Linked DNA regions of Homo sapiens: all the other regions are linked to region 3. The links come from fine-mapping of genetic effects on gene expression. A gene starts in region 3. Each other region holds a variant in brackets. All regions are shown on one strand. Distances are between the middles of the regions. Region 1 overlaps HSD17B1-AS1 (HSD17B1 antisense RNA 1). Region 2 overlaps LOC102725238 (a long non-coding RNA gene). Region 3 holds the start of RETREG3 (reticulophagy regulator family member 3). Region 4 holds the start of MIR2117HG (MIR2117 host gene).

The links. PIP is the estimated chance that this variant, and not a neighbour inherited with it, causes the effect.
Region 1: its variant is fine-mapped to the expression of RETREG3 in whole blood (TOPMed, PIP above 0.99).
Region 2: its variant is fine-mapped to the expression of RETREG3 in blood mononuclear cells (TOPMed, PIP above 0.99).
Region 4: its variant is fine-mapped to the expression of RETREG3 in monocytes (CEDAR, PIP 0.95).

Annotation. Positions count from the first base shown.
Region 1 is chr17:42,544,621-42,552,723 of GRCh38, forward strand. HSD17B1-AS1 (HSD17B1 antisense RNA 1) reads right to left here. Exons shown (of 1, transcript NR_144402.1): 1 at 7,816-8,103. It also overlaps the pseudogene HSD17B1P1. Among named protein-coding and RNA genes, the nearest start is that of HSD17B1, 4.3 kb to the right of the region's middle. RefSeq lists a silencer at 3,646-3,895, enhancers at 4,286-4,365, 4,396-4,455 and a cis regulatory region at 7,761-7,777. The variant T/C (reference allele first, on the strand shown) is at 4,438.
Region 2 is chr17:42,447,803-42,455,905 of GRCh38, forward strand. LOC102725238 (a long non-coding RNA gene) reads left to right here. Exons shown (of 4, transcript XR_007065758.1): 4 at 699-2,455. Among named protein-coding and RNA genes, the nearest start is that of ATP6V0A1, 7.0 kb to the right of the region's middle. The variant T/C (reference allele first, on the strand shown) is at 4,355.
Region 3 is chr17:42,604,611-42,612,695 of GRCh38, forward strand. RETREG3 (reticulophagy regulator family member 3) reads right to left here and starts at 4,764. Exons shown (of 9, transcript NM_178126.4): 1 at 4,476-4,764. The coding sequence starts at 4,714. TUBG1 (tubulin gamma 1) reads left to right here and starts at 5,073. Exons shown (of 11, transcript NM_001070.5): 1 at 5,073-5,176; 2 at 5,498-5,610; 3 at 5,813-5,980; 4 at 7,465-7,533; 5 at 7,817-7,896. The coding sequence starts at 5,128. RefSeq lists an enhancer at 4,646-4,755.
Region 4 is chr17:43,443,070-43,451,172 of GRCh38, forward strand. MIR2117HG (MIR2117 host gene) reads left to right here and starts at 1,638. Exons shown (of 2, transcript NR_146952.1): 1 at 1,638-1,839; 2 at 7,828-8,103. MIR2117 (microRNA 2117) reads left to right here and starts at 1,737; the gene lies at 1,737-1,816. It also overlaps the pseudogene RNU6-406P. The variant A/G (reference allele first, on the strand shown) is at 3,317.

The DNA.
Region 1 (8,103 bases), 60 kb before region 3:
CTTGAGTACAATGGCACAGTCTCGGCTCACTGCAACCTCCGCCTCCTGGGTTCAAGCAATTCTTGTGCCTCAGCCTCCCCGGTAGCTGGGACTATAGGCATGCACCACCACGCCAGGCTAATTTTTTTTTTTCCAAGATGGAGTCTTGCTCTGTCGCCCAGGTTGGAGTTTAGTGGCACCATATTGGTTTACTGCAACCTCTGCCTCCCGGGTTCAAGCAATTCTCCTGCCTCAGTCTACCAGGGAGTTAGGACTACGGGCCTGTGCCATCACGCCCGGCTAATTTTTGTATTTTTCATAGAGATAAGGTTTCACCATGTTGGCCAGGCTGGTCTTTAACTCCTGAACTCAAGTGATCCACCTGCCTCGGCCTTCCAAAGTGCTGGGATTACAGGAGTGAGCCACCGTGCCCGGCCACGTCTCTCTTTTTAACACTAATGTTACCCTGACCTTTGAACGTAGAATGCCCTTCTGTTGCAGGAAAACCTCTTTTCAAACCATGTTTGTCCTTTGCTGGCATGCCACAGCAACAGTCACCAACACAGAAGACTTCTGTGACCAAATATTTGGAGGATTTTCCCCACACACACCAAGCAGCAGACATCAGCTGGGTGTCCTCCAATTCAGTTCCAATGTAATCAACCAGAGACAGCATCAGATCCCACAGGGTTAGGGTGCAGATCCATGAGACCACCCCCTCCTTCCCAACGGTTACAAGTCCTGATCCCTGGAACTTCTGACTAACTGGCTTCAAGTTGGAGTTCCCATGACCCCCTTCCCCTCTTTGGAGTCAACTCATTTGCGACAGTGACCCACGAAACACAGGGAAACCCTTATTATGTTTATTGCTTTATTACAGAGGAAAAAAATTTTTTTCTTTCTTTTTTGAGACAGGGTCTCACTCTGTCATCCAGAATGACTGCAGTGGCAGGATCTGGCTCCGTCACCCAGGCTGGAGTGCAGTGGCATGATCTCGGCTCACTACAGCCTCCATCCCCCCAAACCCCACGCCTCAGCGCCCCACCCCGCAAGTGGCTGGGACTCTAAGCATACACCACCACACCCAGCTAATTTTTTTGTAGTTTTTGCAAAGACGGGGTCTCATTCTGTTGCCCTGGCTGGTCTTGAACTCCTGAGCTCCAGCAATCCCCTTGCCTTGGCCTCCCAAAGTGCTGGGATTACAGGCATCAGCCACCGTGCCCAACCTCAAAGGATATTTTAAAGGATAGAAATAAACAGCCATATGAAGAGATACAGACAGGGCGGTCTGGAAGGGCCCAGAGCAGGAGCTTCTATCTCCATAGAGTTGGGGTTACATCACCCTCCAGGCACATGGATGAGTTCTTCACCTTCTGTCAGCCTCCACACGTTCAGCTCTCAGAAGCTTCCCGAACCCTGTCCTTTGGGCCTTTTATGGAGAACTCCATTGGCTGTCCATGACTGAAGCATGGACAACTGTGATAATGTGATTGGGCAAAAAGGGTCTGATCTAAGCCCAGCAAGGCCAGTCCAGATTCTTTGGGCCTTTGTGCAGCATTCCTTTCTCCAGGGTATGGGGCAAGGACCCACTCTGGAATGAGGATCCTACAACCCACAATCAGATTAGAATCCTGCCTTGGGCAGCTGAAAAGAGGACAGGAGAAGGTCAAAGAGAGGAAAGGCTGTTTTTTGAGGCCTGAGGCGCCCCAACATGACAACGAAAGACTGTAACCATGGTCATGTGAGTTATGAGCTAGGAACCCTGGACGAAACCAACACATATACAATCATCTCCCACCTCCCAACACCTTTACTTTCACAGCCTCTGCAGCAAACTGCGGTCACTATAATCGCTCCTGTGGCACAGAGGCATACCCAGGGGAATCTGCCCAGGGGGCCACTCTGTGCCCACGTGGGAACCCACATCTGCTTGTAAAGCCTCCCCTCCCTCTGACCAGAAACGAGGACAGTTTGTTGTTCCAAGCAGTGGGCTCATGTCTGTTTTGGCTCAGAACAGGGTGGGGAGAGCGGGCCAGGGACCCGCAGGAGGGCTTATCCTTGAGATTGCGTGGGAGACACAACAAGGGGTGGGGGCCCGCAGGCGGGGCGGGGCGAAGCAGGTGATATCCAGCCCAGAGCCCCAGCCTCTCCCCACAGTCTCACCATGGCCTGCACCGTGGTGCTCATCACCGGCTGTTCCTCAGGTATTGGCCTGCACTTGGCAATACATCTGGCTTTGGACCCATCCCAGAGCTTCAAAGGTATAGATAGGTAGGGACAGGGAGGGAGAGAAGGGAAAAGCCCTTGGAGGCCAGAAGAGAAGTCAGATCTTCCTCCTCTCCCAAAACCTCCAGTGTATGCCACGTTGAGGGACCTGAAAACACAGGGCCGGCTGTGGGAGGCGGCCCGGGCCCTGGCATGCCCTCAGGGATCCCTGGAGAGGTTGCAGCTGGATGTAAGGAACTCAAGCTCCCTGGCCGCTGCCCGGGAACGCGTGACCGAGGGCCGTGTGGATGTGCTGGGTGAGCCTCCTGGAAGCATATGGGCTCCTAGGAGCCTTCTCCGCCCTGCGTTGAAACCAACATGTCCCCAGGCCCCTGGAGCATGAGGGGACAGGCCGTGCTGAGGGTGATGCTGAGGCGGGCTGGTTGGGCCTCTGTCCCCGCAGTGTGTGACACAGGCCTGGGCCTGCTGGGGCCGCTGGGGGAGGACGCTGTGGCCTCTGTACTGGATGTGAATGTAGTAGGTACTGTGCGGGTGCTGCAGGACTTCCTGCCAGACATGAAGCGGCCGGGTTCGGGACGCGTGTTGGTGACTGGGAGCATGGGAGGATTGATGGGTGAGTGGCAGGGACCGGGCCCGGAGCTCCAGATTCTTTGTGTGCAGAGCTGAGCCTTGAAGGCAGGCTCCTTAGGGGGTGGGGTGCAATCAGCTTGGAGGGGCACTGCCTGCCGGGGGATGACCCCCTGGCCGCTGCGCCTCAGGAACCTCATCTTCCCACCCAAGGGCTGCCTTTCAATGACGTTTATTGCGCCAGCAAGTTCGCGCTCGAAGGCTTATGCGAGAGTCTGGCGGTTCTGCTGCTGCCCTTTGGGGTCCAGTGAGTCAACACCCCCGTCTCCTCAACCCTCTTAACTCTGACCTAGAGATGCCGAGCACCCTGTCCTGCGGAAGCCGCTCTGGTCTCTGCCCGGCTTACATTTGCTGCGTGCCAGGCACTTAGGCTGGAGCATTGGCACGCATTGTGCCACTTGCTGACCTGGCTGCTGAAGTGTTGGTATTGTTATGGGGAAGCTCCAGCCAAGAGAGGTTAGGTGACTGGCCCAAGGTCATGCAGCGGCCGGGGATCCCGCCAGGTTCGAATTCTGACACCAGGGCTACCTGGCAGCCTCAGATGGGTTTGGGAGGGCTGTCGAGCAATAACCCGCTATTCAAATGTTCTGGTTATCCCCAGCGCTCTTTCCACCTTCGGGACGCAGCGGTGCTGTTCTGGGTCGTGGCCAGGGCCGGGGTCGGGGCCGGTGCTGGGGCAGGAGATGGGACTTGGCGCCTGGGTCGCCTCCGTCCCTGCCCACTTGCGGCTCTCGGGCCAGCAGCGTGAGCCTGATCGAGTGCGGCCCTGTGGACACCGCCTTCATGCAGAAGGTGTTGGGCGGTCCCGACCAGGTGATGGACCGCACGAACACCCGGACCTTCCGCCTCTTGCACTAATACCTCCACCACAGCAAGGAGATCTACCGCGAGGAGGCGCAGCACCCTGAGGAGGTGGTGAAGGTGAGCGGGGGGCGGGACTCCGGGAGCGGGGGCGGTGCGTCGTCCTGCGCGCAGCCCGGGCCAGAGCTCCTCTCCCGCCGCCGCAGGTCTTCCTCACCGCTATGCGCGCCCCGAAGCCGACCCTGCGCTACTTCACAACCAGGCGCTTCCTGCACCAGCTGCTGATGCGCCTGGACGACCCCTTTGGCTTCGACTACGCCGCCGCCATGCACCGGGACGTGTTCGCCGACGATCCCGCAGAGGCCGAGGCTGGGGCCGGGGCTGGGGCCGAGGCCGGGGGCGGGGCCGGTGGGATGGGAGACCCTGAGCTCAGCGATCCTCTGGCCGCCCCGCAAGAAAGGCTCCGTCAGCCACTGTCTCCCGCGCCCTCCTTTGTCTCCTGGGCCTGTGCGGTCCCTGGGGATGGGACGGCGGTGACGGCTGTGGATGGCTAATTAAGACAGATCACGTTAGCCCGTTATATCTGCGCGGCTAGGCGCGATGGCTGTCGCCTATAATCCCAGAGCTTTGGAAGGCCGAGGCAGGAGGATCGCTCCAGGCCAGGAGTTCCAGACCAGCCTGAGCAACATAGTGAGACACCCCATCTCTAAAATAAAAAAATTAGCACAGTGGCACCATTCCTTGAGCTCAGGAGTTGGAGGCTGCAGTGGGCATGATCGAGCTACTGCTCTCCAGCTTGGGCGA[T/C]AGAGTGAGACACTGTCAATTAATTAATCTAATCAACCAACCAACCCAACAACCCAGAAACCAAGGTCCAGAAAGAAGCCAGCCCAGGATCATGCCTCAAGTCCACAGTAAAGCCCAGACACAGTCACTGGATACCCAAGGGGCATCTGCAGGACGAGTTAGGTGGGACTTGGGTTGGGGTAGAGTCAGGTTGTGACCTGCACTCCATTAGCCATGAGACCTCAGGCAAGTTCCTTGCTTTCTCTGAGTGCTTTCCTTTCCTTTCCCTTTTCTTTTCTTTTTTGTTTTTCTTTTGTTTTGAGACGGAGTTTCACTCTTGTTGCCCAGCCTGGAGTGCAATAGCGCGGTCTCAGTTCACCACAACCTCTGCCTCCCGGGTTCAAGTGTAGCTAGGATTGCAGGCATGTGCCACCACGCCCAGCTAATTTTGTATTTTTAGTAGAGACGAGGTTTCTCCATGTTGGTCAGACTGGTCTTGGACTCCCGACCTCAGGTGATCCGCCCGCCCTGGCCTCTCAGAGTGCTGGGATTACAGGCATGACCCACCCCATCCGGCCCTCTGAGTCTTTCTTATCTGTAAAATGGGTATAATAATACCTATCTAATCGGTTTTAGTAATGGTGGAGATAATGCCTGAAAGTGCTAGTATAGAGGTTTAATACCCAGCAAGGACTGTTATTAGAATGAATAGTAATATGACTACTGTCACATTTTGCAAATGTGTAAAGAAGAAAGAGGGCTAAGTGAATCAAAGGGAGACAGCCCCACTCACCCTGTTCTGCCCCAGAGGACTGAGCGATCCCCACCATCTGGGAAGCTGCCTCACCAGGAGGTCCAGCTGGGGCTACAGGACTGGCTACTTTGCTACAATGGCCCATCTTTCCTGAGCCCAGTGGAGGGTCCCAGGGGGGCAGAAGTCATTGATAGGGGCCAGTAGGGTTGTAGAGCCACTGTCTGAACTTCTGTGGAGGTCTGGTGCAGGGGAGGTGTGAACAGATAGGAGGCTAGGTGAGGATGCAGCAGAGGAAGGGGGCAGGAGTGCCCCAGGAGGGGGCGGTACCGAGGCAGGGATTCAGCTGGGTCTGAGAGGGAGGGAAGGCTGAGGGGGATGGCCCTTTGGAGTGGGCAGGGACATGACCACAGAAAGCCTGGGAAGTGGAAACAGACAGGAGCCTGCTGGAGCTCTTGGAGCTTTGTGTGGGGCACTAGGGGAAGGAGGCAGGCACTCCACCCTGACCTGCCCCTACCTCTGGATGAGGGTCTTCTCTGCCTGTTGGATGATGTGCTGCCCCTGCTCTTGGAGGAAGAGGCCTCCCAGCCACCCCCTCCTGCCAGTCGCCTTGCCCTGCTGACCCAGACAGATCTGCTATCCCTACAGCATCCAGGAAGGCCACAGGGAGGGGGCCCAGGTGGCATGGGTTTCTGAGGCCTGGGATCTGCTCTCAGTCCCGCTCTCGCCAACCCCCTTTGCCCCTCTGTGACAGTGTGTGTACATATGCGTGCATGTGTGTACCTGTGTGGTGTGGCTCACAAGGTCACCCCTGGGGGTGGGATAATAAGAGGTAAAGTGTGACCCCCTCTCTTCCGTACATTCATTTTTTCAAGCTTGTGAATATTCACATTGTTAATATAATCTTCTGCAGTCCCATGACTTCGAATAGCACTTAGATGCCGATGACCCCCCCACCAAAGAAACCCCACTGTCTCCCACAGACTCCAGGTCTGTATCTCCAACTGCCTACTCAATACAACACGTCCACCTGATACAATGAACTTAATGTGTCTAAACCCCAATTCCACATTTCCAGTCCTCCTACCGGCTCCTCCCCCAGTCTTCTCTACTTTACTATATGACAACTCCATTTTTCCCAATACTGGTTTTAAAAACCCTGGAGTAGTCCTTGACTCCAGTCTCTCTCACCTTTCAACCAATTCAGCAGCAAATACTGACAGCTCTACCTTTGCTCATCAAAGCATATCCCCAAATCACCCTATTCCAGACTGCACACTGTCATCTCTCCCTTCAATTACAGCAGTAGCCTCCTAACTAGTTTTCTTGATTCCACTCCTGCCCATCAGCAGTGAAATTACCCCAGAGCAGTTAAAATGATCTTTTAGGATGGGCACAGTGGCTCACGCCTGTAATACCAGCACTTTGGGAGGTGGAGGCTGGCTGATCCCCTTAGGTTGGGAGTTCAAGACCATCCTCACCAACAGGGAGAAACCCCATCTCTACTAAAAATACAAAAATTAGCCGGATGTGGTGGGACGTGTCTGTAATCCCAACTACTTGGGAGGCTGAGACAGGAGAACTGCTTGAACCCGGGAGGTGGAGGTTGCAGTGAGCCAGAATCGTGCCACAGCACTCCAGCCTGGGCAAGAAGCGCGAAACTCCGTCTCAAAATAAAATAATCTTCTAAAAATGACAGGGCCAGGTGGGGTGGCACTTTTTTATAATCCGAGCACTTTGGGAGGCTGAGGTGGGCAGATCGCTTGACATCAGGGGTTTGAGACCAGCCTGGCCAACATGGTGAAACTCCGTCTCTACTAAAAATACTAAAAATTAGCTGGGCGTGGTGGCGGGTGCCTGTAATCCCAGCTACTCGGGAGGCTGATGCAGGAGAATCGCCTGAACCAGGCAGATGCAGGATGCAGTGAGCCAAGATTAAGACACTGCACTCCAACCTAAGCAATACTTTGTCTCAAAAATAAAAAAAAGCCTGGGAAACAAAGTGAGACCCCGTCTCTACAAAAAAGTCAAAAAATTAGCTGGGTATGGTGGCAGTGATGGCACACACCTGTAGTCCCGGCTACTTGGGAAGCTTTTTAATATTTTTTGCAGAGACCGGGTCTCACTCTGTTACCTGGCCTGGTCTTGAACTCCTGGGCTCCAACAATCCCCTTTCCTGGGCCTCCCAAAGTGCTGGGATTACAGGCATGAGCCACCGTGCCCAGCCTCAAAGCATATTTTAAAGGATAGAAATAAACAGCCATATGAAGAGATACAGACAGGGCGGTCTGGAAGGGTCCAGAGCAGGAGCTTCTATCTCCATAGAGTTGGGGTTACGTCACCCTCTGGGCACATTCTGTCAGCCTCCACACGTTCAGCCCTCAGAAGCTCCCGAACCCTGTCCTTTGGGCCTTTTATGGAGAACTCCATTGGCTGTCCATGACTGAAGCATGGACAACTGTGATAATGTGATTGGGCAAAAAGGGTCTGATCTAAGCCCAGCAAGGCCAGTCCAGATTCTTTGGGCCTTTGTGCAGCATTCCTTTCTCCAGGGTATGGGGCAAGGACCCACTCTGGAATGAGGATCCTACAACCCACAATCAGATTAGAGTCCTGCCTTGGGCAGCTGAAAAGAGGACAGGAGAAGGTCAGAGAGACGAAAGGCTGTTTTTTGAGGCCTGAGGCACCCCAACATGACAACGTAAGACTGTAACCATGGTCATGTGAGTTATGAGCTAGGAACCCTGGACGAAACCAGCACATATACAATCATCTCCCACCTCCCAACGCCTTTACTTTCACAGCCTCTGCAGCAAACTGCGGTCACTATAATCGCTCCTGTGGCACAGAGGCATACCCAGGGGAATCTGCCCAGGGGGCCACTCTGTGCCCACGTGGGAACCCACACCTGCTTGTAAAGCCTCCCCTCCCTCTGA
Region 2 (8,103 bases), 160 kb before region 3:
CCTACTTTAGCCTCCCGAGTAGCTGAGATTACAGGCATGTGCCACCACACCCAGATAATTTTCTTTTTTTTTTTTTTAGTAGAGACGGGGGTTTCAACATGTTGGCCAAGCTGGTCTCAAACTCCTGACCTCAAGTGATCCTCCCACCTCGGCCTCCCAAAGTGCTGAGATTACAGGTGTGAGCCACCAAGCCCGGCTGGTGTCCTTTTTTTCTTCTTTTCTTTTTTTTTTTTTGAGACGGAGTTTCACTCTTGTTGCCCAGGCTGGAGTGCAATGGCGTAATCTCGGCTCACAGCAACCTCTGTGTCCCGGGTTCAAGCAATTCTCCTGCCTCACCTTCCCGAGTAGCTGGGATTACAGGTGTGTGCCACCACTCCTGGCTAATTTTTTTGTGTTTTTAGTGGAGACAGAGTTTTGCCATGTTGGTCAGGCTGGTCTCAAACTCCTGACCTCAAATGATCTGCCCATCGTGGCTTCCCAAAGTGCTGGGATTACAGGAGTGAGCCACCGTGCCCGGCCCTCATTTAATCTTAATTACATCTTTAAAGGCCCTGTCTCCAATGTACAGTCACAATAGAGGTTAGGGATTCAACATAGGAATTTGGGAAGACACAATTCAGTCTATAACACTTCTCCTCCCTCTCCCTCTCCCTCTCCCTCTACCCACGGTCTCACTCTCCCTCTCCCTCTCCCCACAGTCTCCCTCTCCCTCTCTTTCCACGGTCTCCCTCTGAGGCCGAGCCGAAGCTGGACTGTACTGCTGCCATCTCGGCTCACTGCAACCTCCCTGCCTGATTCTCCTGCCTCAGCCTGCCGAGTGCCTGGGATTGCAGGCGCGCGCCGCCACGCCTGACAGGTTTTCGTATTTTTTTGGTGGAGACGGGGTTTCGCTGTGTTGGCTGGGCTGGTCTCCAGCTCCTAACCGAGAGTGATCCGCCAGCCTCGGCCTCCCGAGGAGCCGGGATTGCAGACGGAGTCTCGTTCACTCAGTGCTCAATGGTGCCCTGGCTGGAGTGCAGTGGCGTGATCTCGGCTCGCTACAACCTCCACCTCCCAGCCGCCTGCCTTGGCCTCCCAAAGTGCCGAGATTGCAGCCTCTGCCCGGCCGCCAACCCGTCTGGGAAGTGAGGAGCGTCTCTGCCTGGCTGCCCATTGTCTGGGATGTGAGGAGCCCCTCTGCCTGGCTGCCCAGTCTGGAAAGTGAGGAGCTTCTCTGCCCGGCCGCCATCCCATCTAGGAAGTGAGGAGCACCTCTTCCTGGCCGCCATCCCATCTAGGAAGTGAGGAGCGTCTCTGCCCGGCTGCCCATCGTCTGAGATGTGGGGAGCACCTCTGCCCCGCCGCCCCGTCTGGGATGTGAGGAGCGCCTCTGCCCGGCCGTGACCCCGTCTGGGAGGTGAGGAGCGTCTCTGCCCAGCCGCCCCGTCTGAGAAGTGAGGAGCCCCTCCGCCCGGCAGCCGCCCCCTCTGAGAAGTGAGGAGCCCCCTCCACCCGGCAGCCACCCCGTCTGGGAAGTGAGGAGCGTCTCCGCCCGGCAGCCATCCCGTCTGGGAGGGAGGTGGGGGGTCAGCCCCCGCCCGGCCAGCCACCCCGTCCGGGAGGGAGGTGGGGGGTCAGACCCCACCCGGCCAGCCGCCCCATCCGGGAGGTGGGGGGCACCTCTGCCCAGCCGCCCCTACTGGGAAGTGAGGAGTCCCTCTGCCCGGCCACCACCCCGTCTGGGAGGTGTACCCAACAGCTCATTGAGAACGGGCCATGATGACAATGGCGGTTTTGTGGAATAGAAAAGGGGGAAAGGTGGGGAAAAGATTGAGAAATCGGATGGTTGCTGTGTCTGTGTAGAAAAAAGTAGACATGGGAGACTTTTCATTTTGTTCTGTACTAAGAAAAATTCTTCTGCCTTGGGATCCTGTTGATCTATGACCTTACCCCCAACCCTGTGCTCTCTGAAACATGTGCTGTGTCCACTCAGGGTTAAATGGATTAAGGGCGGTGCAAGATGTTTTTGTTAAACAGATGCTTGAAGGCAGCATGCTCATTAAGAGTCATCACCACTCCCTAATCTCAAGTACCCAGGGACACAAACACTGCGGAAGGCCGCAGGGTCCTCTGCCTAGGAAAACCAGAGACCTTTGTTCACTTGTTTATCTGCTGACCTTCCCTCCACTATTGTCCTATGACCCTGCCAAATCCCCCTCTGCAAGAAACACCCAAGAATGATCAATAAAAAAAAAACAAAACAACAACAACAAAAAAAACACTTCTCCTCTTGAGTTTTCTCAATTATGTTTGATGGTTGAAGCAGACTGTGTAACATTGTCCAATGTGGTTTGCAAAGTATGTTGAGGAAATATTTAAGACAATTATGTTGTAAATGGGAAAGTAAAAAGACTAAAATGGAGGTAAGAGTTTTATACTTCACTCAAGCTGATAAAAATATTGACATCAGTTGGCCAGGCACAGTGGCTCACGCCTGTAATCCCAGCACTTTGGGAGGCCGAGGCAGGTGGATCACCTGAGTTCAGGAGTTCAAGACCAGCCTGGTCAATATGGTGAAACCCTGTCTCTACTAAAAATACAAAAGTTAGCCGGGCATGGTGGCACATGCCTGCAATCCCAGCTACTCAGGAGACTGAGGCAGGAGAATCGCTTGAATCTGGGAAGCAGAGGTTGCAGTGAGCCAAGATTGCGCCACTGCACTCCAGTCTGGGCGATAGAGAGAGACTCCGTCTTAAAAAAAAAAAAAAAAAAGAAAGAAAAAAGAAAAAATATTGACATCAGTTGACTGTGATAATTTATATATGTATAATATGAAACCCATTACAACCACTTAAAAAATCTACACAAAGAGATACACTCGGGCCAGGCGCGGTGGCTCACGCCTGTAATCCCAGCACTTTGGGAGGCCGAGGCGGGCGGATCATGAGGTCAGGAGATTGAGACCATCCTGGCTAACACGGTGAAACCTCGTCTCTACTAAAAATACAAAAAAATTAGCCGGGCGTGGTGGCGGGCACCTGTAGTCCCAGCTACTCCGGAGGCTGAGGCAGGAGAATGGCGTGAACCTGGGAGGCGGAGCTTGCAGTGAGCTGAGATCGCGCCACTGCACTCCAGCCTGGGCGACAGAGCGAGACTCCGTCTCAAAAAAAAAAAAAAAAAAAGAGATGCACTCAAAAACACTATAGGAAAATTAAAATGGGATTTAAAAAAAAAAGGTACAAGTAGCCCACAGTAAGCCAGAAAAAATCAAACACAGAGACAACAAGAGGAACAAGCAGAAAACAAAAAATAAAACAGCAGACTTAAACCTTTTATTTATTTACATACTTATTTTTTTAGCAATGGAGTCTTGCTGCAAGAGAGCAGTGGCATGATCGTAGCTCACTACAGCTTCGGACTCCTGGGCTCAAGTAATCCTCCCACCTCAACTTCCCAAGTAGTTGGGACTACAGGTGCACATGCCACCACTCCTGGCTAGTTAAAAAAAATTTTTTTTTTTTGTAGAGATGAGGTCTTGCTATGTTGCTCAGACTGGTCTCAAACTCTTGGGCTCAAGCGATCCTTCTGCCTCAGCCTCTCAAAGTGCTGGGGTTACAGGCATGAGCTACCACACCTCGCCTTTAAGCCTTAAGGTATCAATAATTACATTAAATGTAAACAAAGTGCACCAATTAAAAAGCAGACTTTGGCCGGGCACGGTGGCTCATACCTGTAATCCCAGCACTATGGGAGGCCAAGGCAGGTGGATTACTTGAGGTCAAGAGTTTGAGACCAGCCTGGCCAACATGGTGAAACCCCATCTCTACTAAAAATACAAAAAAATTAGCTGGGTGTGGTGGTGGGCGACTGTAATCCCAGCTACTCAGGAGGCTGAGGCAGGAGAATCCCTTGAACCCAGGAGGCAGGGGTTGCGGTGTGCTGGGATGGTGCCACCACACTCCAACCTGGGTGACAGAACGAGACTCAATCTCAAAAAATACAAAAATAGGCCAAGGACAGTGGCTCACACCTGTAATCCCAGCACTTTGGGAGGCCTAGGTGGGTGGATCACCTGAGATCGGGAGTTCGAGACCAGCCTGACCAACATGGTGAAACCCTGTCTCTACTAAAAATATAAAATTAGCTGGGCGTGGTGGCTCATGCCTGTAATCCAAGCTACTTGGGGACTGAGGCAGGAGAATCCCTTGAACCCGGGAGGCAGAGGTTGCGGTGAGCCGAGATTGCACCATTGCACTCCAGCCTGGGCAACAAGAGCGAAACTCTGTCTCAAAAAAATTAATTAATTAATTAATTAAAGTTAAAAAAGCAGACATTGACAATGGATTAAAAATATGACACAACAATATGTTTTCTT[T/C]TTTCTTTTTCTTTTTCTATTTTTTTTTTTGAGATGGAGCCTTGCTGTGTTGCCCAGGCTGGAGTGCAGTGGCACTATCTCGGCTCATTGCAACCTCCGCCTCCCAGGTTCAAGGGATCCTCCTGCCTCAGCCCCCCAGCAGCTGAGATTACAGGCATGCATTACCATGCCTGGCTAATTTTTGTATTTTTAGTAGAGATGGGATTTCGCCATGTTGGCTAGGCTGGTCTCAACTCCTGACCTCAGGTGATCCACCCGCCTCGGCCTCCCAAAGTGCTGAGATTACAGGCATGAGCCACCGTGCCCGGACAACAATATGCTGTTTTCAAGAATCTCATTTCAGGCCAGGTCCAGCGGATCACATCTGTAATCTCAGCACTTCAAGGGACTGAGTAGGGAGGCTCATTTGAGTCCAGGTGTTTGAGTGCAGCCTGTGCAAGATAGTGAGACATTGTCTCCACAAAGAATCAAAAGATTAGTCTGGTTTGGTGGTGTGTGACTGTGGTCCCAGCTACTCAGGAGGCTGAGGCGGGAGGACTGCTTCAGCCTGGAAGTTGAAGGCTGCAGGGAGTCATGATTGCACCATTGCACTCCAGCCTGGGCAACATAGCAAGAGAGTCTTTTTAGAAAAAAAGAAATGGGTCGGGCGCTGTGGCTCATGCCTGTAATCCCAGCACTTTGGGAGGCAGAGGCAGGCAAATCGCCTGAGGTCAGGAGTTTGAGACTAGCCTGACCAACACGGTGAAACCCTGTCTCTACTAAAAATACAAAGATTAGCCAGGTGTAGTGGTGTGCACCTGTAATCCCAGCTACTCGGGAGGTGGAGGTTATGGTGAGCCAAGATCGCAGCCCTGCACTCCAGCCTGGGTGACAGAGCAAGACCCCATATCTTAAAAGAAGAAAAGAAAATTTTACTAAGTATATACTGAATACCAGGTACCAAAATAGGCAGTGAGAATACAATAAGTGAGATACGCAGGGTCCCTTCTCTTGGAGCTTTATGTTCTACTGAAAGTTAGATCTCTCCTTTGAACATTGAATCAACTAGATCTTTTCTATTAGAATTTTCCGATGTATTCATTCCACGTCTCCCTTTCTTTCTCGAAGTCACTAGAAACCCAATATAGAAACATTTGCCAGATTTTCCACTTCAGAAATCTCGAACTAGTTTCTCACTTTCCTGGACAAATATTTCAGGTCTAGTGTCACAGATGTTTTTCAGCCTTGTGTCACTCAGCCCTTTCCCTCATTCCCATCCCAAGATTTCTCATGTTTTCCAAATTTCATTTCCTTAAAAAGCCTCTGCATAGCATTCTTAACTTCCACAAGTTAAGAGGCTCACTGCCTCATGTGTCTGTCACAGGAGTCATGAGGGTTGCATAAAATAAAATGTTACATGCCTTAGGCTCATTTATATCTCCTTGTCCATGCAATCATTAGCAGAGCTTCCGAGGAAGTCTCAAAATCTATTAGGTTTTTACTTTTTACCAAAAGGCCTTTAATCTTAAACACTCACAGGTTTGAAAGTAAAAGCAGAAGTATTTTAAGGAACTCACAGTGAAGTTGTAAAAGGGACTACTTCTATGGAAACAAACTGCTAATCAACAGGTCACCTAAAGGTTGTAGCAGTAGAAATGTCTCAATGAACGCTCATATCAGATTCTTGGTAGAACAGTTTTAAGAATCAGAATTCATTTTCACATAAAAAGAAAACTTTTAAAAATGGAATTCTGGTTGCAAAAAGGAAAACATAGGGCAGGTGTGGTGGCTTACGCCTGTAATCTCAGGACTTTGGGAGGCAGAGGAGGGCAAATCACTTGAGGTCAGGTGTTAGAGACCAGCCTGGCCAACATGGTGAAACCCTGTCTCTACTAAAAATACAAAAAAATTATCCGGGCGTGGTGGCAGGCCCTGTAATCCCAGCTACTCGGGAGGCTGAGGCAGGATAAATGCCTGAACCCAGGAGGCAGAGGTTGTAGTGAGACGAGACTGCGCCACGGCACTCCAGTCTGGATGACAGAGTGAGACTCCGTCTCAAAAAAAAAAAAAAAAAGGAAGAAAAGAAAAAAAAATTCATGTATAACGGGGAACCTGTGAAGGTGGCCTCATTTGGAAATAGGATATTTGCAGATGTAATCAGGTTAAGATGGGATCATACTGGATTAAGTGGTGCCCTAATCTAATGGCTGGTGCCCCTATAAGAAGAGGAGAATTTGCCTACAGACAGAGACACATAGAGAAGGCCGGGTGCAGTGGCTCACTCCTGTAATCCCAGCACTTTGGGAGGCTGAGGCGGGTGGATCACTTGAGGCCAGGAGTTCGAGACTAGCCTGAGCAGTATGGCGAACCCCCGTCTCTACTGAAAATACAAAAATTAGCTGGGCGTGGCGGTGCACACCCGTAATCCCAGCTACTCAGGAGGCTGAGGCAGGAGAATTGCTTGAACCTGGGAGGTGGAGGTTGCAGTGAGCTGAGATTGCGCCACTGCACTCGTCTGGGCGACAGAGCAAGACTCTATCTCAAATAAAAAAAAAAAGACATATAGAAGAAAGAATACCATGTGACGATGGAGGCAACAATTGAAATGATGCATCTATAAGCCAAGGAACACCAAGGATTTCTGGCAACCACCAGAAGCCAGGAAGAGGGAAGAAAGGATTCTTTCCCAGAGCCTTTGGAGATACCATGCTCTGCAGACACCTTAATTTCAGACTTCTAGCCTCCGCTGTGAGAGAATAAATTTCGGTGTTTTTGTTTTTTTGAGACAGGGCCTCACTGTGTCACCCAGGCTGAAATGCAGTGGCTCAATCACGGCTCCCTGCAGCAGCATCAACCTCCCTGGCTCAGGCTCAAGCCATCCTCCCACTTCAGCCTCCTGAGTAGCTGGGTCTACAGGCACGTGCCACCATGCCCAGCTAATTTTTTTTTTTTTTTTTTTTTACAGACGTGGGTCTTGCTGTGTTGTCCAGGCTGGTCTCAAACTCCTGGGCTCAAGCCATCCTTCTGCCTTGGCCTCCCAAAGTGCTGGGATAACAGGAGTGAGCCACCGTGCATGGCCGATTTCTGTTGTTTTTTGTTTTTTTGAGACACAGTTTTGCTTTTTCATCCAAGCTGGAGTGAGGTGGCGCAAACTTGGCTCACTGTAGCCTCTGCCCCCTGGGTTCAAGTGATTCTCCTGCCTCAGCCTCCCAAGTAGCTGAGACTACAGGCGCCCACCACCATGTCTTGCTAATTTTTGTATTTTTAGTAGAGATGGGGTTTCCCCATGTTGGCCAGGCTAGTCTCGAACTCCTGACCTCAGGTGACAGGCTGGCCTCGGTCTCCCAAAGTGCTAGGATTACAGGCGTGAGCCACCTCGGCTGACCTGATTTCTGTTGTTTTAAATGCTACCCAGGTTGTGGTTATTTGTATGGCAGCCTTAGGGAAACGAATACTGGAAGCCTGTGGAGAAGACACTGGAGCAGATACGTATTTCAAAACACCGGGCTTAACGTTAAAACTCTCCTCTAGGCCCCATCTAGGAATCTAAGTGGGATAAGCTAAGATGAGCTAGCTGATTCTTCACTGGTGGAAATTTGGACAATTGACACGCATTCATTCAAACTAAAAATTAAAGATAAAAAACCACATTTAATAATTTCACTACAGTGACAATTCTTGTAACATTTTGAGACTCTATCAGTTAGATCCCTACCTCTGTTCTATTCTTTTTGTGGTAGTGAAGAACTAATCTTTATAACTGTTTTTTT
Region 3 (8,085 bases):
AGTGAGCTATGATTGTGCCACTGCACTCCAGCCTGGGCAACAGAGGGAGACCCTGTCCAGCCCAACAACCCCCGATTCCCCAGCAAAAAAAAAAAAAAAAAAAAAAAACTGAAAGAGCTCAGCAGTTATGTAGGCCTCCTTGAACTATCTCTTCATGTTAGGTGGGAGAGGGAGCTTGGAGTTCACACATTTCCAGTGTTCATTTACCCTCCTCTGATCTCAGAGTACAAGTCAAACCAAAAAGTTACCCAAACCTGTTCTTTTCTGATCCTGTCAGGATACATGCTTGTTGACTCTCACATTCTTCCCCCAAATCACTCATTCACAGATGAGGTTGAGACTAATGAAAACACAAGCTATTGGAAGGAACGGCCTGACATTTCTATTATTATGCTAGAGACAATAACAGATCAGTGACCAGAAGTAATCTAGGCTGGAAGACCTCTGATATGGCCACCATAAATTCTCTGGTACCTGAAAAAAAAAAAAGTATGAAAACCTTGGAATACTATGGTGACAAGGTATCTACATCTATCTCCATCTTTTTTTTTTTTTTTTAAGATGTAAGAGGGCATATTCACAGTTACGGCAAAATATGACTGAGGATACAAAACACTGAAAATTAAGAGCTACCTACCTGAATTCTGATGGGTTTTTTTTTGTACTCCTATCTCCTAATACCTCAAAATGCATAAAAATCTCAGTTAATGATATGTCATTTTTGTCCCATTATTCAATACAATAAAAGAGAAACTAAATATTTCAGATTTGATTTTTCTGACTTGAGCTAATGATCCTCCTCCCTTTCTTAAACATTTAAAATGTTTGTTAACTGAACAGTCAGTCACTCTTCCACATTTCTAAGCGAAATGTCAACACTCATACTCAATATGACACTACTAGAATGTGAAGCCCAAATTTCATTTTAAATCTCTAATTACCTACCAAGGAAGCTCATTTCCCCAAACAATTCTGTGAACTCCAATGCCAGACTATCCAAGTTTCTGGGGACTTAACAGTATCTGTGCCTTTCACATGTAGGAGTCCTCTCCAGAAATGGCATACCCAACTGTTCTTTTAGTCTCAAGAGTCACATTGTCGGCCAGGGACAGTGGCTCACACCTGTAATCCCAGCACTTTGGGAGACCGAGGTGGGTGGATCACCTGAGGTCAGGAGTTCAAGACCAGCCTGGCCAACATGGTGAAACTCTGCCCTACAAAAATACAAAAATTAGCCAGACGTGATGGTGGGTGCCTGTAATCCCAGCTACTCGGGAGGCTGGGGTGGGAGAATCGCTTGAACTTAGGAGGTGGAAGTTGCAGTGAGCCAAGATCACGCCATTGCACCCCAGCCTGGGTGACAGAGCGAGACTCCATCTCAAAAAAAAAAAAAAAAAAAAAAAGTCACATCCTCATTTTGTTGTCTCTCTCCTGCACCTTCTTAAAATGTGATGGGACTGTAACAAGAGTAACTGTGTTCTGGATACACAACAGACAAGCTACTAGGAAATGCCAAAGATAAAGACCAATCACAGCAATGCTTTAAGAGACCCAGAGTACAAAAGGGGTTCTAAGTGAGCCTCTAAACATAGCATGTTAATAAGCTTAAGTAAACACTGGTAGAGGCCAGCAAATTAAAGCTAGCTGTAACATCTAAAGATATGTCCCAGTCACAGCAGCTCTTTATGTGCAGACCTCAACCTCACATTCTGCTTCAGAAACCTCTCTCAGACAAGCGGCAGAAGAAAGGTCCCCTCCTCGCAGATCACGAGGTCAGGAGATTGAGACCATCCTGGCTAACACGGTGAAATCCCGTCTCTACTAAAAAAAAATACAAAAAATTAGCCGGGCGTGGTGGCGCGTGCCTGCAATCCTAGCTACTCGGGAGACTGAGTCAGGAGAATGGCGTGAACCCGGGAGGCAGAGCTTGCAGTGGGCCGAGATGGCGCCACTGCACTCCAGCCTGGGCGACAGAGCGAGACTCCATCTCAAAAAACAAAAATTAATTAAAAAAAAAAGGTCCCCTCCTCAAAAAGAACAGCATACATGCTACTAATTCATTTGCATTCATAAATCTTTGGTTTAAAAATCCATTTAAGGCCCGGTACAGTGCAGTGGCTCACACCTGTAATCCCAGCACATCGGGAGGCTGAGACAGGTGGATTGCTTTGAGGTCAGGAGTTTGAGACGAGCCTGGGCAACCTGGCAAAACTGTCTCTACAAAAAAATACAAAAATTAGCCAGGCATTGGTGGCGCATGCCTGTAATCCCAGCTGCTCGGGAGGCTGAGGCAGGAGAATCGCTTGAACCTGGGAGGAGGAGGTTGTAGTGAGCTGAGATCGTGCCATTGCACTCCAGCCTGGGCAACAAGAGCCAAACTGTCTCAAAACAAAAATAAGTAAACCCTGATAAAGTGTTTTTTTCCATCAGGCAGTCATACTTTGATACAAATTGGTTTAATGAGGCCCAGCCTTCTTGCTAGAGATACCAAAACCACTGTGGGAAATGTTTTGACTGGATAAAACACTCTTCAGTGAGGTGCTATAGTGAAGATTTCTACAGAGAGCAATGGGAATCAGTACCTAGGGGTCAAGGAAGAAGCACTTGGCTGGGCACGGTGGCTCATGCCTATAATCCCAGCACTCTGGGAGCCCAAGGCAGGAGGATCACCAGAGCCTAGGAGTTCGAGACCAGCCTGGGCAATATAGTGAGACCCTGTCTCCACAAAAAATTTAAAAAATTAGCCAAGCATGATGATGTGCACCTCTGGTCCCAGCTATTGTGGAGGCTGAGGTGGGAAGATTGCTTGAGCCCAGGAAGTGGAAGTTGCAATGAGCCGAGATCATACCACTGCACTCCAGCCTGGGTGATAGAGCAAGACCTTGTCTCAAAAAAAAAAAAAAAAAAAAAAAGGCCAGGCGCAGTGGCTCACGCCTGTAATCCCAGCACTTTGGGAGGCCGAGGCAGGCAGATCACCTGACCTCGGGAGTTCGAGACCAGCCTGACCAACATGGAGAAACCCCATCTCTACTAAAAAAATACAAAATTAGCCGGTTGTGGTGGTTCATGCCTGTAATCCCAGCTACTTGGGGGGCTGAGGCAGGAGAAATGCTTGAATCTGGGAGGCGGAGGTTGCAGTGAGCCGAGATCACGCCATTGCACTCCAGCCTGGGCAATAAGAGTGAAACTCTGTCTTAAAAAAAAAAAAAAGGGAAAAAGCACTACCAAAAATAAATGAAGAACGTGGTAGGAAAAGTTTACCATCGAGTTTGCTAAAGGCTCTGGAAGCCACAAATGCCAGAGACTACTGTGACACCTTTAACTGGGTCTCTTTCAAACTGGGAGAGGATTAGCTTAATAGCTGAACACTGTTTTCGGGTCAATGAACTTGGAATTATTTGTTCTGCTTCAGCTCACTGAAAATCTTTCAGATAAAGGATAATAAATGTTTTGATTTTAAAACAAATTTTAAGGGGAAAGCTATTTTTAGCAAAAACACAATTAAAAAACACACATATTTTGTTGTTTCAGGCTTATCCAGAATAGTCTTAATCCATTCAGCAGCAGAAAGCCCCCTATAAGTCAGTTCCCTTGGAACCTCCTCCATTACAAATAAATCCAAAATTATGGTTGGTAGATCCTATGAAGTCCTAGGTCCACTTCAGGTGATGACAACTGAGAGAAGCAGCAGTTCCATTTTCACAGAGCATGACACACACAAATAAAGCATATTTACAGTGCTACTTTTCCAGCTCAGGAAAACTCACACACAGTATTAGACATCAATTTCCTTGCCTATAAACCATGGCTAAGGATGCCTCTCTAATTCCTTGGAACAGGGAGGAGTTACAATCACAGGTGGCTTTGACACGCGTGTAATCTCCGTCATCATTTCCTAACTGTTCTTTAAAAGCTTGTAATTTTCTTTCAATTTTCAGCTTTGGGGGCTCACACTGACGCTTAGACTTCATAAACTTCCTTCCTAGATATATAACATGCTAATTCATGCGAATCGCTCAAGCTTGTTTTATAATCACACCTATGGATACCTTTGCAAGACTTCACGCCTCTACTCCAACAATAAACTACTAAAACCTCTGGAAACAATCTAGAACTTGCACTTGAGCAGACAAGAGAAAGGAAGTGATGGCTTTAAAGGGACGCAGCTTTGTCGGGCTCAAAAGAGGAGCCCTCGCTCACTCTTGAGCGGCTCAAGATGTTACCAGAAGCTCCCGCCAGATGTGCGGGGCGGGGGTGCGGGCACAGGTAAGGCAGAGAAGATGGGTGGACGGCCCTGGGAAGAACTAGGGTGCCGAAGCCTGCAGGCGGGATGGAGTGGAAGGAGGTGAGGCAAAATTAGGCAAGTACAGGAAGGAGCCAGTGCAGCGAAGAAAACAGGGCAGGCGAGAAGTAGAGCCCTAGAGGAACCAACGAATTCGGGACTCGGAGGGTTTCCGAGGGTCCAGTTCTCTCACCAGAAAGCCGCGTTCAGCCCCAGGCACCACAGAGCGCTCCTAGCTGGCCGCTCCCACACCAGGGCTGCCTGCACCCGACTCAGCAGAGGCTCGTAAGGCCCCAGCACCTCCACCAGGGCCCGCTGCGCCGCCTCAACCTGCTGGTCCCGCTCCCAGGAGCCTGACACATCTCGGCGGCCCCTGAAAGTCGACCCCGAAGCCGGGCCTGGGGTCGTGGGAACCCCTTCGGCCTCAGCCATCTCCCCGCGGCAGCCACAACATCCGGGGCCGTGGCCCGACAAGTCACAATAACAGCAACTGCGCAGATGCGCGATTCGGCGGGGGAGGTGGCTTCGCACCACAGCGCGCTTGCGCGCAGGCCCAAGCAGGCGCCCACCCAGAGGGGAGGGAGGACGCCGTACCCCGCCCTCACTGAGGCGCGGAGCCGGATCCGGAGGCGCCGAGCCGCATCCGGAGCCGCGCACGCGCAATCTGCATGAACGAAGGCCAGTGCTTAAAGACGTGCCATTCATTGCCAGAACTCGATTCTCATTGGAGCGGAGGAAGTTCGTGGGTGGAGCTGGTTGTTTGGCGCCTGCGTCTTGCGGCGAGCGGGCTGGCGTGCGGCGCCGTTGCGGGCGGGAGCGGCTGCAACGCCGGTGCCTGAGGAGCGATGCCGAGGGAAATCATCACCCTACAGTTGGGCCAGTGCGGCAATCAGAGTGAGCGAAACTCCGGCCCCTCAGCTAGCCAGGTTCCTTAGGGTCAATGGGATCTCGCTGTGGGATCCTGGACTCCATCTGTCCTTGCCAGAATCGTAGTTCTCTGAAAGGCGAGACATCCCTGACCCAGTGTCCACTTGCCCAACCCCGAGGGGCCCTCCCCTGCCCAGTCCCTGGCGTACAGTCCTTTCCTCAGACACGGGAGAGTCCTGCGGCTTGACTTCTTATCCCTGGACGCAGGCGCCCAGTCCCCCGGCTCCTGATTGGAACCTGCCCGGACCTAGATATCTTCTTTCTCCCCTGCCCGCCCCTTCCCCCCAGTTGGGTTCGAGTTCTGGAAACAGCTGTGCGCCGAGCATGGTATCAGCCCCGAGGGCATCGTGGAGGAGTTCGCCACCGAGGGCACTGACCGCAAGGACGTCTTTTTCTACCAGGTGCCCCCAGCGACTTGGCCGGGGGCGGCAGTTGCCCAAGGGGGCGGAAGGGAAGGGAGTGGCCTGGTACTGGGAACCCCGCTGGGCAGTAGGGCCAGGCGGCTGGCTTGAGGAGGGAGGGCCGGAGGGAGCCAGAGTTGGGAGGACTTCGGACTTGGGCCGCCCTAGCTGATTGGGCCCCCTCCTGGACTCCCCTTGACAGGCAGACGATGAGCACTACATCCCCCGGGCCGTGCTGCTGGACTTGGAACCCCGGGTGATCCACTCCATCCTCAACTCCCCCTATGCCAAGCTCTACAACCCAGAGAACATCTACCTGTCGGAACATGGAGGAGGAGCTGGCAACAACTGGGCCAGCGGATTCTCCCAGGTCGTTTCCTATTCCCTGGCAGGGCCCACAACTCGCTGGGTAGGGACAGGCTCTATGACGTCCCGAAGAGAGGGAAAACCGGATCAGGGATGTATGAATGCTGGAGGGAGAGACCTGGCTGCAGGGAGTGGACTATGTAATATTGTCAAGCGCCTACACTAGCTAATGCAGTGTGCCAGGTCATTCTAAGTGCTTTACATATATTAATTTTTCTAAATCTCCCAACAACCCTAGAAGTAAGTACTACAGGTCCACAGTCCCTTATCTGCCTTTCCAGGATCCAGAAAGCCATGAAACCAAAGGACATTTCATAACTAGTTTATCAGCAAAAACAAATTTCAATGAAGACAGGCTGTTTTATAGTTTCTTTTTTTTAATTTTTATTTATTTATTTTTTTTGAGACGGAGTCTCACTCTGTCGCCCAGGCTGGAGTGCAGTGGCACGCTCTCAGCTCACTGCAACCTCTGCTGCCCGGGTTCAAGCGATTCTCCTGCCTCAGCCTCCCGAGTAGCTGGGATTACAGGTGCTTGCCATCACGCCTGGCTAATTTTTGTATTTTTAGTAGAGACGGGGTTTTACTGTGTTAGCCAGGGTGGTCTTGATCTCCTGACCTCGTGATCCACCTGCCTCGGCCTCCCAAAGTGCTGGGATTGCAGGCGTGAACCGCCATGCCCGGCCCTATAGTTTCTATCCAACTTACTGTCATTAGTGATGCCTTTTATTACAGAAATACTAATATATTTGATTAACGTGCTTCTGATTAAATAAAAATTCCCACTGGAATTTTATTTAATATATAGTATATATACCATAATACCTTTCTAAAATCTGAAATATTTTGAATTCCAAAACATAACTGGCCCCAACACTGTTAGATAAGGGTATATGGACCTGTATTATTACCTTCATTGTACAGATGAGGAAACTGAGGCATAGAGCAATTAAATAAGCTGCCCAGAGCTACATAGAAGTAGAGTTAATGGGCCAGGCGTGGTGGCTCACGCCTGTAATCCTAGCACTTTGGGAGGCCAAGGCAGGCAGATCACCTGAGGTCAGGAGTTCAAGACCAGCCTAGCCAACATGGTGAAACTCTGATTCTACTAAAAATACAAAAAATAGCTGGGCATGGTGGCATGCGCCTATAATCCCAGCTACTGGGGAGGCTGAGGCAGGAGAATCGCTTGAACCCAGGAGACGGAGGTTGCCATGAGCCAAGATCGCGCCACTGCACTCCAGCCTGGGAGAAAGAGAGAGACTCCATCGCAAAAAAAAATAGAGCTAATGTATGAACCCAGGTAGTCTGGGTGTAGAGTGCTTTCTTGTAACCACTGCACCGTACTGCCTCTCAATGTAGATAAAAGCAGGTAGCTATGCTCCATAAAAGGACTTCTGGGTGTTATAAGGAGAATTGAGGGTGGCTTTTCTGAGGTCAGAGACCTCCCATGGTTCTGTCCCACTCTGACCCTCCCCTATGTCTGTACAGGGAGAAAAGATCCATGAGGACATTTTTGACATCATAGACCGGGAGGCAGATGGTAGTGACAGTCTAGAGGTAAGTGTCCCAGGAATGCTGGTAGGAGCCGACATGGGCAAGGCTTGGCAGCACCCTCTAGAAGCGACCTGTTAGGAACAAGACCCACTCATGTACCCTTTGCACTGGACAGAAGCTATCAGGCCTTGCCAGAAACAAGGCAGTTGCCTAAGCTGTATAAGTGAGGGGACTGGATGGGAAGCAAGGGCTCGGGAAAATGGGAGTCCTAAAAAACTATGAGATGGGTCTAGTTTGACATCCTGCCACTAGATACCTGTACACTGACTGCCCCTTCCCCATGCAGGGCTTTGTGCTGTGTCACTCCATTGCTGGGGGGACAGGCTCTGGACTGGGTTCCTACCTCTTAGAACGGCTGAATGACAGGTAAGTTTGTGTTTGGGGATTAGGAAAGGTCTCCAACTTGGCTTCCTAAATGACTAGGGGACCCAGCAGATATAACTCCATATTTGCTGGAACAGGAAAGAGTTCTTATATTCCCTCCTATAGAGAGGAAAATGAAGTTACAATGACTGAGAACCCCATCACACTCCCAGTAGTGGGAACTGGAGCCTA
Region 4 (8,103 bases), 840 kb after region 3:
TCAAGAGCTCACAAAATAGATGTAGACATCATTTGGGGCTATCTACTTATCCTAGTGATTCTCAACTGAGGTTGATACTTAAATTTTTTTTTTTCATTTTCTTTTTTTTTTAAGTTTCAAGAGGTTGATACTTTTGATTGTCACAATGATTGGCTTTTGATTGTCACAATGATTGGGAGCGTTATTACCACTCACATATAGTAAATGAAGGATGGGATAGTCCTACACAAAAAATTATCTAGCTCCAAATGTCCTCAGTGTCTCTGATGAGAAACACTGATCTAGTCCATAGTCAGGGCTGCCAGGTATGGGTGTGCAGGTTGCCCACTGTACAACTCTTAAGGGAACCATTCACCTGGTGGCTAAGTGTGTCAATTCTGAAACCATACTGCCTGAGTTCCAGTGCCAACTGGAACTGCCCCCCACCCCCTACTTCTTTTTTTTTTTTTGAGACCGAGTCTTTCTCCACCACCCAGGCTGCAGTCCAGTGGCACAGTCACAGCTCACTGCAGACTCTACCTCCCGGGCTCAAGTGATTCTCCTACCTCAGCCTCTTGAATAGCTGGGACCACAGGCACCACCACCACACCTGGTTACTTTTTAAATTTTTTGTAGAGATAAGGTCTCCCTATGTTGCCCAGGCTGGACTCAAAACTCTGAGGCTCAGGTGATCCTCCTGCCTCGGCCTCCCAAAGTGCTGGGATTACAGGTGTGAGCCACCGGACCTGGCCTGGAAGCTCTTGAACATATTGCTTATCTTCTGTGGACCTCAGTTTCCTCATTTATAAAATGGGAAGAGCAATAGTAATATAACTCATACTGATAACATAAGAATATGTTATCAATAATATATGTTCCTGCACATAGCAGACATTCAATTCATGTTCAATGATTATTATTCTCTGAGATCTGACTTCCCCATTGACTGGGGTGGGGCCCTGGTGTCTACTCCCTGATAAAGACCACGTATGCCTGGATTCCTGCTCTCCCTGAGGCTTAACTTTCCTGGTTCCACCTGTAATCTCATTGAGAACTCCCATTGTTGCCTAAACTTGCTTGAGATGGTTTTTGTAATCTACAACCAGAAGTCTTAATTACTAAGACAAGGTGAAAAGACTCACCTGTAGGAAACACAGTAGATAATACAAAAGGGCTTTCAAGTTAGTGTGAGACTGCTTGGCATAGAAAGACGATAAATGCCACAGACAAAACCTAATCGTAACTGAAATAAATAAATTCGAACAACAAATTGTTAAGTGAATGGAATGCAGCTAGCTAGGATCTCATGCTCTGTTCTAAGAAAACAGACAGGTCAAACAATCAGGACCAGTCCAGACATGTGTCTGGGAAGTTAAAGGAAAGAGACCCTGTCCCTCAAAACCTTCCTTACTAGTGACTCATGTCTTCGTTTACCAGGAGGTCTTCTTTGAAAATATGAATGTTTCTGGGAAGGGTAATCCAGAAACCTACTGAGGCTCACCCTACTAGGAATGTATTTACCATTTTTCTTTTCTTTCATGTCTGTTCATTGAGAACACAGAGAATGTATTTATTCAGTGACTTTCTCTCTCCTCCACTTCCCAACCCCAGCTACAAATGGGGACAGCAAGAGAGAGAAAACCTGGGGAGAACGGAAGAAACCATGCTTTGTAGAATGGATCCTGCTTCAGAATTGCTGATCTCATCAACCACATGTTTATAGAGAGAGCAGTGGCCCTTAAGGAACTGGAGAGAATGCTCTGATTTACTTCTGTCCGGCATGGTGAACAGCAGGATTGGCTGTAGCTGTTCTCTTTGCCAAGGACAGATCTGATCTGATTGCCTTGAGGTGAAAGTGAGGTAAGGTGGGGCGGGGATTAGCTTTTGGCTCCCAAGAATGGTTGTTCATCAACCTTTTGCTAAGCCCGTGGTTCTCAAATTTTGCTGCATGTTAGAATCACCTGGGAAGCTTTAAAAAAACATCTCAGTACCCAGGTTGTACCTCAGACCAATTAAATCTGAATGCCTGGGGGCGGTTGCCAGGCATCAGAAGTTTTCAAAGACCTCCCCCAACCAGGTGGTTCCTGGACATGTACCCACGTCCGGGAACCACTGTCCTCAGCATTTATTGTATGAGGCAACTTAGGTGACACACAACAGGTGAGAACCTGGCTCCTGCCTTTCGGACACAGGACTTAATTTTTTTTTTATTTTTTAAATTATGCAGTAAAATTTTTTCTGTTGGTGTACAGGTCTATGAATTTTTTTATACTGAGTTTTTCATACTGCCTGAGTACAATTTAATGGTATACCATAAAGTATACCATAATTTTATGGTATACCGTAACATTTTACATACCATAATTTTATTTTTATAAAGTATACCCACAATTTTATGGTATACCATAAAACTAGTATAGTATACCACAAAATTTACCCTTTTAAATTATACAATTCAATGCTCACTTCAGCAGCACATATACTAAAATTGGAATGATACAAAGAAAATTAGCATGACCCTTGCTCAAAGATGACACTGTAATTTGTGAAGTGTTCCATATTTAAAAAAAAATTTTTTTTAAAGTGTACAACTCAGCCATATGCAGTGGTTCCCACCTGTAATCCCAGGGTTTTGAGGCCAGGCACGGTGGCTCACGCCTATGATCTCAACACTTTGGGAGGCCGAGGTGGGTAGATCACCTGAGGTCAGGTGTTCAAGACCAGACTGTCCAATATGGTGAAACATCATCTCTACTAAAAATACAAAAACTAGCCGGGCATGGTGGTGTGTGCTTGTAATCCCAGCTACTCGGGAGCCTGAGGCGAGAGAATCGCTTGAACCCAGGAGGCGGAGGTTGCAGTGAGCCAAGATTGTGCCACTGCTCTCCAGCCTGGGTGACAGAGCAAGACTCTGTCTCAAAAAAAAAAAAAAAGGCTGGGTGTGGTGGCTCACACCTGTAATCCCCAGTACTTTGGGAGGCCGAGGCGGGCAGATCACCTGAGGTCAGGATTTCCAGACCAGCCTGACCAACATGGTGAAACCCCATCTCTACTAAAAATACAAAATTAGCCGGGCATGGTGGCGCATGCCTGTAATCCCAGCTGCTCAGGAGGCTGAGGCAGGATAATTGCTTGAACCCGGGAGGTGGAGGTTGCGGTGAGCCAAGATCTCGCCATTGCACTTCAGCCTAGGCAAGAAGAGTGAAGCTCTGTCTCAAAAAAAACAATCCCAGGGTTTTGGGATGCCTAGGCGGAGGCTCACTTGAGGCCAGGAGTTTGAGACCAGCCTGGGCAATGCAGCGAGACCCTGTCTCTACCAATAAATGAATGAATGAAT[A/G]AATAAATAAATAAATAAATAAATAAATAAATAAATAAATAAAATTAGCTGGGGATGGTGGCAAGTGCCTTTAATCCTAGCTGCTCAGGAGGCTGAGACAGGAGGATTGCTTGAGCCCAAGAGTTTGGGGTTACAGTGAGCTATGATCACGTCACTACACTCTGGCTAGGGTGACAGAGAAAGACCTTGTCTCTAAAAAAGAGAGGAAAACAAGTTACCAAATTATACAATTATCTGTTCAGACCTAGATTTACAAGAAAAAAAATGTAAAATTTCGTGTTTTTAGTATATTTGTAAAGTTGTGCCACCATCACCAGTAATTCCAGAACATTTTTATCTCGTCTCCCCAAAATACCCCGAATCCACAGTAGCTTCTCCCCATTTCCCCTTCCGCCCACCCCCTGGCAAATACGAGCCATAGAGACTCTCTCCCTCTATGGCTTTGCCTACTCTTGATATGTCACATAAATGAAATCACACAATCTGTGGCCTTTTATGTCAAGCTTATTTCACTTAGCATGCTGTTTTCAGGGTTTATCTGTGTTGTAGCATGTATTAGTACTACATTCCTTTTTATTGATGAATAATATTCCATTGTATGGATATACCACATTTCATTTATCTATTCATCAGCTGATGGACATTTGGGTTGTTTGCACTTTTTGGCTATTGTGAATAATGCGGCTATAAACATTCTTGTACAAGTTTTTGTGTGAATGTATATTTTCATTTTCTTGGTCTTGGATACTTTTTTTTTTTTCTGAGACGGAGTCTTGCTCTGTCGCCTAGGCTGGAGTACAGTGGTGCAATCTCGGCTCACTGCAACCTCTGCCTGCTGAGTTCAAGCAATTCTCCTGCCTCAGCCCCCCAAGTAGCTGGGATTACAGATGTGTACCACCACACCCGGCTACTTTTTATATTTTTATTAGAGACAGGGTTTTGCCATATTGGCCAGACTGATCTTGAACTCCTGACCTCAAGTGATCTGCCTGCCTTGGCCTCCCAAAGTGCTGGGATTACAGGCATGAGCCACCGAAACCGACCCATAAATCTTTTTATATAGGTGTGATTTCAGCTTAACATTAGTAAAAAAAAATTTCATAAATTTCTTTTCATTTGAGCTATTTTGCAATAGAATGAATGACTGGCTGCTTCACTGGGACTATTAATTCTACAAATATTTATTGAATGCCTACTATATGCCAAGCATTGTTTTTCTCCCATTTGGTGATTATTTATACTTTTATTTTTAGTTTACATGTAATGATTGTACATATTTATGGGATTCAGATTGATACTTCTTTTTTGTTTGTTTGTTTGAGACAGTCTCGCCCTGCCTCCCAGGCTGGAGTGCAGTGGTACAATTATGGCTCCCTGCAGCCTTGACCTCCCAGGCTCAAGTGATCCTCCCACCTCAACCCCCTGAGTAGTTGGGACCACAGATGTGTGCCACCATGCCCAACTAATTAAAAAAAAATTTGGTAGAGACAAGGTCTCACTATGTTGCCCAGGCTGGTCTCCAACTCCCGGGGTCAAGCAATCCTCCTGCCTTGGCCTCCCAAAGTGTTGGGATTTCAGGTTTGAGTGACTGTACATGATGATTATTTCTTTTTTAAAAAATTATTTTTATTTTTTTGTAGAGATGAGGTCTTGCATATTGCCCAGGCTGGGCGAACTCCTGGCCTCAAGCAATCTTCTTGTCTCAGTAATTGTATTGAAAGTGACCCATTACAGGCATGAGCCACCTCGCCTGGCTGTTGAACATCTTTTCATGTGCCTATCTGCCATCTTAATATTCTCTTTGGTGAAGTATTTGTTTACATCTTTTGCTCATTTTTAAAGTCAGTAATCTGTTTTCTTATTTAGGTATGAGAGTTCATTATAAATTCTGGTTTTTGTTTGTTTGTTTTTGTTTTGTTTTGTTTTTGAGACAGAGTTCTGCTCTTGTTGCCCAGGCTGGAGTACAATGGTGTAATCTTGGCTCACTGCAATCTCCGCCTCCCAGATTCAAGTGATTCTCCTGCCTCAGCCTCTTGAGTAGCTGGGATTACAGGCACCCGCCACCACGCCCAGTTAATTTTTATATTTTTAGTAGAGATGGAGTTTTGCCATGTTGGCCAGGCTGGTCTCAAACTCCTGACCTCAGGTGATCCACTCTCCTCGACCTCTCAAAGTGCTGGGATTACAGGCATGAGCCACCGCGCCTGGCCCATTATAAATTCTGGATACAAATCCTGTGTTGCACATATGATTCGTAAATATTTTCTCTTAGTCTGTGTTTTGGACACAATACTTTTTGTACATGTGTCTGATGAGAGAAAGGTATGGAATTAACATTTACTGAGCACCTACTATGTGCTGGACGTTGTAGTGGATTGCTGGAGGAATAGGGATATAAGTAAGATAGAGTCCCTATCCTCAAGAGAGGTTTCCTGGAGGAGGGGTGAAGTTTGGACACTACTGTCTATACTACAGGCAGAAATTTTTGTAGAGACGGGGTCTCACTATGTTGTCCAGGCTGGTCTTGAGCTCTTGGGCTCAGGCGATCCTCTGAGCCACAATAAGGTAGAAGAGGGAAATGTAGAGCCAAGTGGTTACAAGTAAGGACTTTGGAGTCAGTTTGTCTGGTCCCAGCTGCAGCACTTACCACCTGTATGTCCTTGGGCAAGTTACTAAATCTCTCAGTACCTCGGTTTCTTCATTAGCAAAATTAGGGCAGTAATAATGCCCATGGAAGGGCTGGGGGTACGAAATGAGAGGGTGTAGGTGGCAAAGGGAAACTCTCCACTCTTATCTACTGTATTATCATTTATTTGGGTAGCAACGTTGTTCTGTGGCCATCAGGGGAAGCTACCCTCCACCTCCTGGAGGAGGTGTCATTGGAGCTGAACCTCAAGGCCTGGAAAGACTTCCAGAAGCTGAGATGGGTGCATTGAAGTGGTGGAAGCTGCTCTTTAGAACCTATATTTTGCCCCAAACCATATATTCCTCCCCAAAGAGAGAAGTTTTCCTCTTTCTTGTTCCATCCCCTCCTCTCTTCATCCTGCGCTGTCCTCTCATCAAGTCTTTTTCTTTCTTTTCCCTGTCTCTCCTTCTCACCTGCCAGAGGCTTCTATGGGCCCCTCTTGTGTCCTTGGCCTTATGAAGTCACCGACACTTGGGTTATGGGCTGCTGCTCTGAGGCTGCAGGGTCACCTTCGGCCCCTCGATGGGGACTTTACACTCTACTCCAAACAGAAGCAGGATGCTGTCTTGGGGATTCTTTCCCCCTGCAGTCTGGTGCCCTGGTGCCAGTGCTCAGGGAATGAATTTAGTGCTGGGTCACTTCCAGTACAAATTATTGAGCAATTTTCTGTGTGGACATCAGGCCTATGTTGAGACAACAGCTCTGCCAGTTCGAGCTTGTTCCGTTAATAATTTACTGGCGGAGAAATGGGAGTTAAATGAGCCAGGAGGCATATTTTGCATGAACTTTGAGGGTACCTCTGACAGCAGTTCATGTAATTTGTCCGGGAAGATACTAAAGCTGTCTGAAATCTAATGTCCTGCCTGCCACACTGACCCTTTGGATCCATTTTATTAACACAGTTGGCTTTGATTTATGTTTATTTTATTGCTTTGGTTTCTCTTCTGAACTCATAACCAGAGTGGTGGTGCATGTGGAAAATGGCTCTGTGAAGAATTAGGTTCCCAGGTGTGCTTGTGGAAGGAAACCTAGCAGCAGCTGTGGGTTTTTCTCGGCTTTGCAGGACTGGGATGTCTTGTGGCAAAACTGCCCCTTTCTGAGTGACTGGCCACTGTGTGTGTGCAAGGCCAGCACCATTGATGTGTGACCTGTGCAGTTAAGCAGGGCCCCATGTTTAGAAGGACCCCCTGCTTGATTTAATGCTCTGCTGTCACCATTTAAACGTCTTAATAATTTAGAAACAAGGAGTCATCCTTTTTTTTTTTTGAGGCAGAGTTTTGCTCTTGTCGCCCAGGCTGGAGCGCAATGGCGCGATCTCAGCTCACTGCAACCTCTGCCTCCTGGGTTCAAGCGATTCTCCAGCCTCAGCTTCCCAAGTAGCTGGGATTACAGGCACCTGCCACCACGCCTGGCTAATTTTTGTATTTTTAGTAGAGACGGGGTTTCACCATGTTGGCTGGGCTGGTCTCAAACTCCTGACCTCAAGTGATCCACCCACCTCGGCCTCTCAAAGTGCTGGGATTACAGGCATGAGCCACCATGCCTGGCTGGATTCATACATTTTATACTGGCCCCTGAAAATTCTGTAACCAGCCCTGAGTGTGTGCCATGGTCCACATTCCCAATTCTTTATGTTGAACCTAGGTGATTCGCCAAGTTTATTCTGTTCTTTCTGGGGCCATCCCAAAATCCTTAAGGAGGCTATGGCAACTCTGTCCCAGTGTCTTACAGGCCCACCAGCCAAGATATCTGAAAACACATACAGATAAAAAGTTTGCTTAAAAAAAATCAGTTACGGCCTCTTCCCGGCCACCATCCCATCTAGGAAGTGAGGAGCGTCTCTGCCCGGCCACCCATCGTCTGAGATGTGGGGAGCGCCTCTGCCCCGCCGCCCCGTCTGGGATGTGAGGAGCGCTTCGGCCCGGCCGCGACCCCGTCTGGGAGGTGAGGAGCGTCTCTGCCCGGCCGCCCCGTCTGAGAAGTGAGGAGACCCTCCACCTGGCAACTGCCCCATCTGAGAACGGCATTCCAGATTTTTCTGCAGTCCAGAATAGAGCACCACCACCATAGCATTTCAAGCTCATTCTAAGTTCATCTTATC